2 linked regions of the Homo sapiens genome follow. The protein of the gene in region 1 interacts with the protein of each later gene in a pairwise test. Each region holds a gene or a part of one and is shown on either strand. Other genes may lie near its edges. The genes, in order: THSD7A and ASAP2.

Region 1 (3,918 bases):
CTATATAACTTCCCTTACAAAAACAGCCAGTAGGCCACCTTTGCAGGTCATATTTTGCTGACCCCTGGTCTGGATGTTTTTTAATGCTAGCTCTCCATGGTGTCATCTTTCGTTTTCATTCATTTTTCAAAGGTGAGAATTTACAGTCATTACATTTCCCACTGTATCAGAAGTAGCTGTATTTTCTACAGATGTAGCCCTGGGAATGGCACAGTGGAACAATATTTAACTAACTCAGCAGACTTCTTGCAAATGAAAAGAAAACTCAAAAGGTGCCATTAAAAAGCAATACCATTTTCAGGCAACATTATTGCAACAACCTTTGTGAGAGAGGACACTAGCTTTTCAGGATATTTGAAAAATAATATAACTAACATGCTATTTTATCTTAAACAGCTGTGTTCCTGTAAAAGTGTTTTGGATTAGAAGGTATTTTTACCTTCATACTGGAGTATGAACTCCCCCTGCTGTTCATTAGAGTATTTGCAAAGATTACAAAAGACATCAGGTTAGGATGTCATTGTCCCCAAAATGAAAATATTTGTATGTATTTCAATAAGAACTAAATGCAGTAAGCGCTAATTCCTCATTCAATATTCACTATATTAGGAAATGTAAATCATTTCAAAGAGAACAGGTAGTCAGGAAGATGAAAATTTTACTTTAAAGCAAGGATTTAAACAAAGAAAACCATAAAAACAAAGTCCATTTTATCTGTTTTATTAAAGAGGAAGAAAAAATAATATTGTTACTTTAAAACTGTGATTGTCAATATATATAATCAGGGGTCTTCCAGATAATCCTAAAGTTGATCTCTTTGAATAAAATAAACTCCATTTGTCCAAAATAGTTAAGAAAGACTCTATTGTGGTTACTTGAAAAATTCAGCTAACCCTCTTATGAAATGTGTGCAACACCTATTAATTTTGAAATGTGGGATAGAATACCTACTAAAGCTATATTTAAGGTATTGTAAAATGTCATTAATTCAGAAAAGATTAGTATCATCCTACCTATAAGAATTAAATTAGCAAATCAAAATTATAGAATGTTATGAAAAATACATTTTATTCATAAATTAATTAGATTTTACAGCATATATGCATGCATATATATATATACACACACACACACACACACCCATATATATGAGAGAGAGGAAATTAGGTTCAACATGACCTAATATTAGAGAACATATTGGAAGGTCACTGTTTGTTAGGATAAATAAATACTGGATAACCTCGTTAGAAAGGTGGAAAGAGGAGAACGTAGCAATCTGGCTATTTTGGACAAAGGGAAGGTTATTATATTCATGTTTATAACATGAAAATGGCCTTATTTTTGTTTCTGACATGAGACAATAATGAGTTAAATATTTTATTGGAATTTCATCAAAACCTTATTTTTACTGTTCCTTCTAAAAATTTGGGAGGGGAATATAGTAGTAACTTCTCTATTGACACTTTTACCTCACCGAGGGGGTAAAAGATGTAGAACTGCTGTTCCCTAGAATGAAGGTCTGTTGTTTGGTTTTTAAAAAAAGAAGAGCAGAAAAAGTTTGACACAGTATTATATGATTTTGCTGGACTATTTCACTAGAAACCACGTAGAATAGGACTAACTGATCTCTTTTGAAAGGGGCTGATTTGCTTATTCATCAATAACTAATCCAATATGTGGACAGTAATCTTAATTTCAAAGCCTTTTTTGAGGATACTACGGTGTAGCTTAAGTGAATTTAAAAAGAGTGCATAAAAGCTTGTTTTTAATTACTTATAACAAAGCACAAATTACTTCTAACAAGGCAAATATTTATTGACATATAAGACATTCTGCTAGGCATTGTAAAAAAAAAAAAAAAAGTAATGGCTTTTGTATACATAGGTACTTAAGACAGACATCCAAAAGAAGGAAAAAATGCTTAATGAGTGAAGATAGCACTGAAACATGTTGACTTTTACTCTAGGTTTGTTTTTAGATGGGGTTAGTATTTTCCCCTACGTAATGTACATGTCTTTAGGCCACAGTATTAGGAGTTTGATTTTTCCCTGCCCCACCCTCAGGTAGGTGGCAGTGGTCATTGTAGCTTAATCAGACCCCTGTTAAGTTCCTGGGCATTTCAAGGTAAATTCACGTCTTCCTTCTCACAGAAATTGAATAGACCTCTCACACACTTATTTACCTCCCCCAACAACCTGTATCCTTGGCCCTTTCTGATTTTCTCTGCTTGGTCTCTTTCTACTCTTGACAGCTATTCTTACCTACTTCCCACTAAACATGCCCAATTTTTTAATTAAAAAAAAAAGAATTCCTATATTTCCTTCCCTATTAGAATCAAAGTGTCACTCACTCAGAGTGTGAACATCCTGATTTACACCAAATCCACTGGTCAAAGAAATGAATAAAGGGAAAAGGAAAAATGTGGAAGGCATGCAGGAAAAAAAAAAAAAAAAAAGCCCTTTTCTGTAAAAATGTCCATGCCTACACTTGCTTTAGACCATCCCATATCCTCCTGCCTCCATCTCGAGTCTTTGTTCACATTCCACACCACAAGACAGTGAGGGAGGACTGTACTTTTCAGTACCATACAGAAGGGAGAGCCTGTTCTAAAGCTGACGTGGGTCTCAATAGTACATGAGAAGCACAATTCCCAAATGATCTGGGATCTCCTGTTTATAAATATATTACCAAATTCAAGTGTGGGTTCTTCTTCTATTTCCACTGTAAGATTGAGGGTGTTGAAAAAACAGTAGTCCTTGAGCAAATCTGTGAGGAATCTTGTCAGAATGTGATCTTTCCTGGGACTAGTTTAGTTGTGAGAACTACATCTGCTTGTTCTGGGAATAAGGGTCTCCCCAGGTCCTGCCCTCAGGTGGCCCTGGCTGCAGGACAGGATTTCAGGTATCAGAAACTGGTGTGTGAGCCAAGCAAATAGTTATCCATTTATAAAAAGGATGGTTTGCAGTGTGTTATAATAATTTTATATCTAGCAGGGACAATGAAAAATGGTTATGTCTACATTATTAAATGAATGAAACTAATGCTAAACAGTTAATTTTGCATTTTTATTTTTCTGTGTTTCTACCAAGTCAGATCTTAAAAATGGGCAGTATATGAAGAGCTTTAGTTTGTGGGAGTCATGTTTTCAGTGATCAAAAATCTCTATATTATTTAGAATATAATTGTCAGTCTTGTTGTGTTTTGTAGATTTATTGTTTTTAAGCCATAGTTTCTAGATTACCTACTTTTAACCCTCAAGTAAACTTTTCCCTATTTTTCAGAAATCTGTTTGTGTTTATTTTTAGAAAGTAAACATTTAGATTCCTTTTCTGGTACTTTTTTTCTCCATTTCTATCACACAGATTTGAAGAGATCAGTATCTATCATTGTAAAATATAACTTTATTAAAATTTGCAATCTGTCTTTCTATAAATTATTATTCCCTAAATGTGTATTTTATGTTAATTTAACTACCTGAATATTTATTTTGTTTAAATAAGGAGGCAGCTGTCTAAGAATTTTTGTTAATATTACTTTGTAAATTGCGTAATGTAATTTATTTTACATTATGTACATTTCCTTTTTAACGCACAAAATGTCTATGTACAATTAACTACAGATTTGCAAATAATGTCACTAAGCTTTATTCAGTCAATACAGATGGCATGTGAAGATGTAATATGCTTTTTTACATTTTCATATGGGTTATTTGTAAATAACTATATTGCTGACAAACATAAATACGGAAATCATTTTCATTCTAATCATGTGTATCTGTGTTTTGATTTGCACCAATTGCTTCTTAAATATGGATTAAAATTTTTTTCCAGTGAATACCTAAATCCTTTTACCTACTGTATTGCCCTTTCCTGGGTTGTATAACAACTCCAATTTAGAAAGTTCAAGAAATGCAAACTT
Region 2 (3,918 bases), on another chromosome or scaffold:
GAAAAAAAAAATAACGCCATTGCTTCATTTAAAGCTCTTTGGTGACACCCACCCCCCCACCCACACACACACTCCTGCTAGCCCAGGCGTCTTCTGCTAAAACACCTGCAATACCCAATTTTAAAACTGTAACCTGACATCCTGGCCCAGAGACATTTAATCACAGATTCACTATTGCCACACGTGTGACTTGTAAACCTATTCTGAGCCGAGCAGAGTGCTAAGCACTTCACACAGTCTCTGATCCTGGAAAGGATGCATTACTAATCCCGTTTGATGGGTAAGGAAAAGGAGGACTGCAGGTGAGGATGTGCCTCAAACCACAGCCAACGGTGGCCCCTGGACTCACAGACTCTGCCCCTTTCCCCACGGCTTTAATTTTCAACCAAGCTTCTTCGTTCCTACGTGTTCCTCTCCCCAGGACCTGGAGAGCGTACTGCTTAGCAGCTAGGCGTGATGACTTTGCACCTTGAGAGCACTTTACTAAAACCAGGCCTTTTCCAGGTTGAGGGGGAAGGGCGGCATTCCGGGTTCAAGCAGGTGAGACCCAGGTAACCGGGGAGCGGCTCCTGGAGGCTTCTTGGACCCAGAAGCGCCGACTCTCACACACCTTGCCCGCAGTTCCTTCTCCGGGCACGGGTGGAGCGCAGCCAGGCCGCCCTGGCTGAGGCGGGCACGCCTTCCCGGGCAGCCCGGGATGCCCCGGACCCGCGGACCCGAGGGTGGGGGCCCTGCGGCGCTCGGGGGCTGCGGCGGGGAGCTCGGAGCGCGGAGCTGCCCCCGCCGGTCCACTTCAAGAACAAGTTGATAAGGTCCGCACCGGGTACCAAAGACCCCGGGCGGCGGCGGGCGGCGGCGGGCAGCGGGATCCCCCGCTCGCCGCGGACCCCGACTCTGGACAAAGTTGGCCGCGCTGCGGGGAAAAGACCAGGCCGCGGAACCCCGCGAGGGCCACGAGGCCGAGAGAGGGGAGGTCTTAAAGAGGCCCAAGGTGGCCATCACCCATCTCCTCCGAGCCACCTAGGCGGGAACAAAGGGCTTCTGTCTCGGGCAGGGTTGGCCCGGCCGCGTCCGGCTTCGGAGCAAAGAAAGTTTTCTCGGGATGCGGATGCGGGAGCGGCGGGCGGGGCTGGGGCGCGGGATACCTGCGGCCGGAGCCGCCGCGCAGGCCGCCTCACCTCCTCGATGGCCGCCACAGTGTTCCGGCACTGCGCCGTGCGGGTGGTGAAGCTGGAGGCCGTGGGCGCCTTGTAGTCCTCATGGGTCTCGGCCACGAATTCCGACACGGAGATCTGGTCCGGCATCGCCTCGGCGCGAGGGCGCTGGCGCACAGCCGCAGGGGCGCCGCCGCCTCAACTGCCGCAGCAGGCTCCGACCGCCGCTCGGACACCGCCGCTGCCGCCGCCGCTCCGGCCCGCGGACAAAGGGGAGCGCCGGGCGCGGGAGCCGCGCGGGGCCTGGCGGCGGAGCAGGGGCGGCGCGCAGCCCCGCGCAGCTCGGCCGGTCCGCCCGCCTGCGCGCCGAGGGCTCCGAGTCCGCTGCCGCCGCGTCCTCTCAGAGCGAGCCCCGAGGCGGGCGCGCACAGCCGGCGGGAACTACCCGCCACCCAGCCGCGGGCCCCGACGCCTCCCGCGGAGAGGGGCGGGTCCGGGCCGGGGGCGGCGGCCGGCCGGGCGTGGGGCGGGGCGGCGGGAGGACCGGGCCGCCAATCGGCGCGCTCGCCGCTGCCGCGCCGCCGGGAAGCGGATCCCGCAGGAAGGAAGGCGGCGCGCGCCCCGGCCCGCCGAGCCGTTCCTGGCCGCCGCGCGCCGCATTGTCTCGGCGTTCCGGGCCCCGCGCGCCGCGCCCATGCCCCGCCCCCAGCCGGCCCGAGGCCCCGACTCCGACCCGCTGCCCGCGAGGGTGCGTGTGGAGGTGCGCCCCGCCGGAGTCCGGCCTTGTGCGCGCCAACCGCCCCCCGCCCACGGCGCGGAGCACCTCTGGGCTCCCCACTTGAACGGCGGGCCGCGCCGGCCCATGAGGAAAGCGGGGTGCGGAGCTCGCCCCCTGCCGGAGGATGCGCTCCGCCGGCGGGCACCCTGCGGGGACCACAGCCGGACGCCAGAAGTGACCTGACCGTGAATGTGCGCTTTGCGTGCAGTCATTGCATCGTCGCAGGCCTAGGAGACAGATGAAGAGATGGGTGCTTATTTTATATAGGGGACACAGTGTGCCCAAGAGCACAAGATAAACGGCCGGGTGGGGATTCAAACCCATGTTCCCTGACTCAAGTGTGAGTGCTTCAGAGCGGTGAGGGGCCCCTACTAAAAGTCCCAGTCGCGTTTCCTAGGCTGCCCAATGATAGGTATTCTCGGTTATAGTTTTAGGGTACTAGGCCAGGACCCACCCTGGGAAGGCTGCTGAACGCCCTGAAGTGGTATTCCCGCAGGCAGAGGAGGGAACCGAGGGGGTGCAGGAGGAGGAGGAGGGGGAGAACGTGCTACAGCAGCCAGCCAACCTCACACAAAACCGGGCCAGTAAAGGGTTCGAACTGGTACCGATTTTTATTTACAGCTCTTAAGGAAATTCTCGGTTATACTGAAAAATCCAGAAGCTCTGAAGATACCAGTCAAATAAAATCACACCCTATAACTCTACACCAGACTTGTGGCATGGTTTCTGTAGCTGCCAGCGGTAAAACCAAGAGAAACTTTACAAAAACCTTTTGTGCATCTGAAAAGGAGGAAGTGTGAGAGACACTGGAAATTCAATATGTCAGACAAAGCCGTCTCCTGACACTGCAGGACAGTAGACCAGTCAAACAATCTTTTTAAAGCCCCCATGTAAGAAGTTGCTATATGAGGTGGCAGCTTGGGTCAGACATTATGTATGGCCTTTGGTATTTTAGTAGCACTGCATGTAAAATTTAACTTTCTAAAATCGCTGTATTCGTGGATAGCTTTTATCATTGCACTAGACAACAAGTTACAATTTAAAAATTGTATCTGTTTCTTTTTATGTTTTTTGATCCTTTTGGTGTCTGAAGTTTTCCTCTATTTGCAACCTTCTACAATTCATGTTTTGTGTTTATTATTTATATTAATACATCCTCTCCAACACCAGGCAGATTCTGTTCCCGCCTACCTAGTTTCCCAGCTACAGTTTTTGACATGAGGGAATATGCTGAATAACTTTTCAAGTCTTGATTTGTAGAGGGCTGGTCTCTATGAGGCTATGAGGGATCTAAGAAAGAAAGTCGGGTTTTTCCTTGATGTCTAGTACAGCATTAACCAGACTAATCAATACTTCTACAAGGACAAAGTTAAGCTTGGTATTCTCTGTTCTCTCTTTATATACAACTCCGGTTCTTGTTTCTTTTAGTTTAATTTTGCAGATACAGGAAGCTTTAGTAGCCTCAAAAAAATAAAATTGCAAAGCTGTGTTGCATTGCAAGGCTGGTGGAAAACAACAATTAGTTACCAAGTTCATTGGTGGCCTAAAGAGGATACCAAATTGGTAGAATGCTAGAGCCATTTATTCCTCCATCATCCCTTAGAAATCTAACTTGCCTACTGCATAAGCCTAGAATTAAAGCAAGACCAGAGCAAAACATAGCTAATGCCTTTCTGAGATTAATATAAGAATGAGTAGCTTCCAATAAATAACAATAAAATTAAAGTTCAACATGGATCAAGGAAACACTCTACACATACTCATTTTTTTAAATGCATCAAGAGAAGAAGAGTATGCTGGTAATGTCCTTACAGGCCTATACTTCCTTAACCAGAATTACTAAAAATCCCTGAAAATGTAGCTTTACAAATAGTTCTTAATAGTAAAATTCATCTGAAATGAACTGATGTGAGGCTATGTGTGGTCTTGTTTATCCTACCTCATGTGAATATGTATGTTTTGCTGCAAAATATAAACATGGTTGAT

The links.
Region 2: the proteins of THSD7A (region 1) and ASAP2 interact in a two-hybrid assay, tested with the Homo sapiens proteins (one study listed by BioGRID and IntAct).

The regions. Positions count from the first base shown.
Region 1 is NC_000007.14:11,370,281-11,374,198, reverse strand, and holds the end of THSD7A (thrombospondin type-1 domain-containing protein 7A precursor), read left to right. Parts: 3' UTR 1-3,834; downstream 3,835-3,918.
Region 2 is NC_000002.12:9,204,491-9,208,408, reverse strand, and holds the start of ASAP2 (arf-GAP with SH3 domain, ANK repeat and PH domain-containing protein 2), read right to left. Parts: upstream 1,598-3,918; 5' UTR 1,305-1,597; coding exon 1,179-1,304; coding exon of another isoform or gene 1,146-1,178; intron 1-1,145. UniProt on the Homo sapiens protein: Activates the small GTPases ARF1, ARF5 and ARF6. Regulates the formation of post-Golgi vesicles and modulates constitutive secretion. Modulates phagocytosis mediated by Fc gamma receptor and ARF6. Modulates PXN recruitment to focal contacts and cell migration.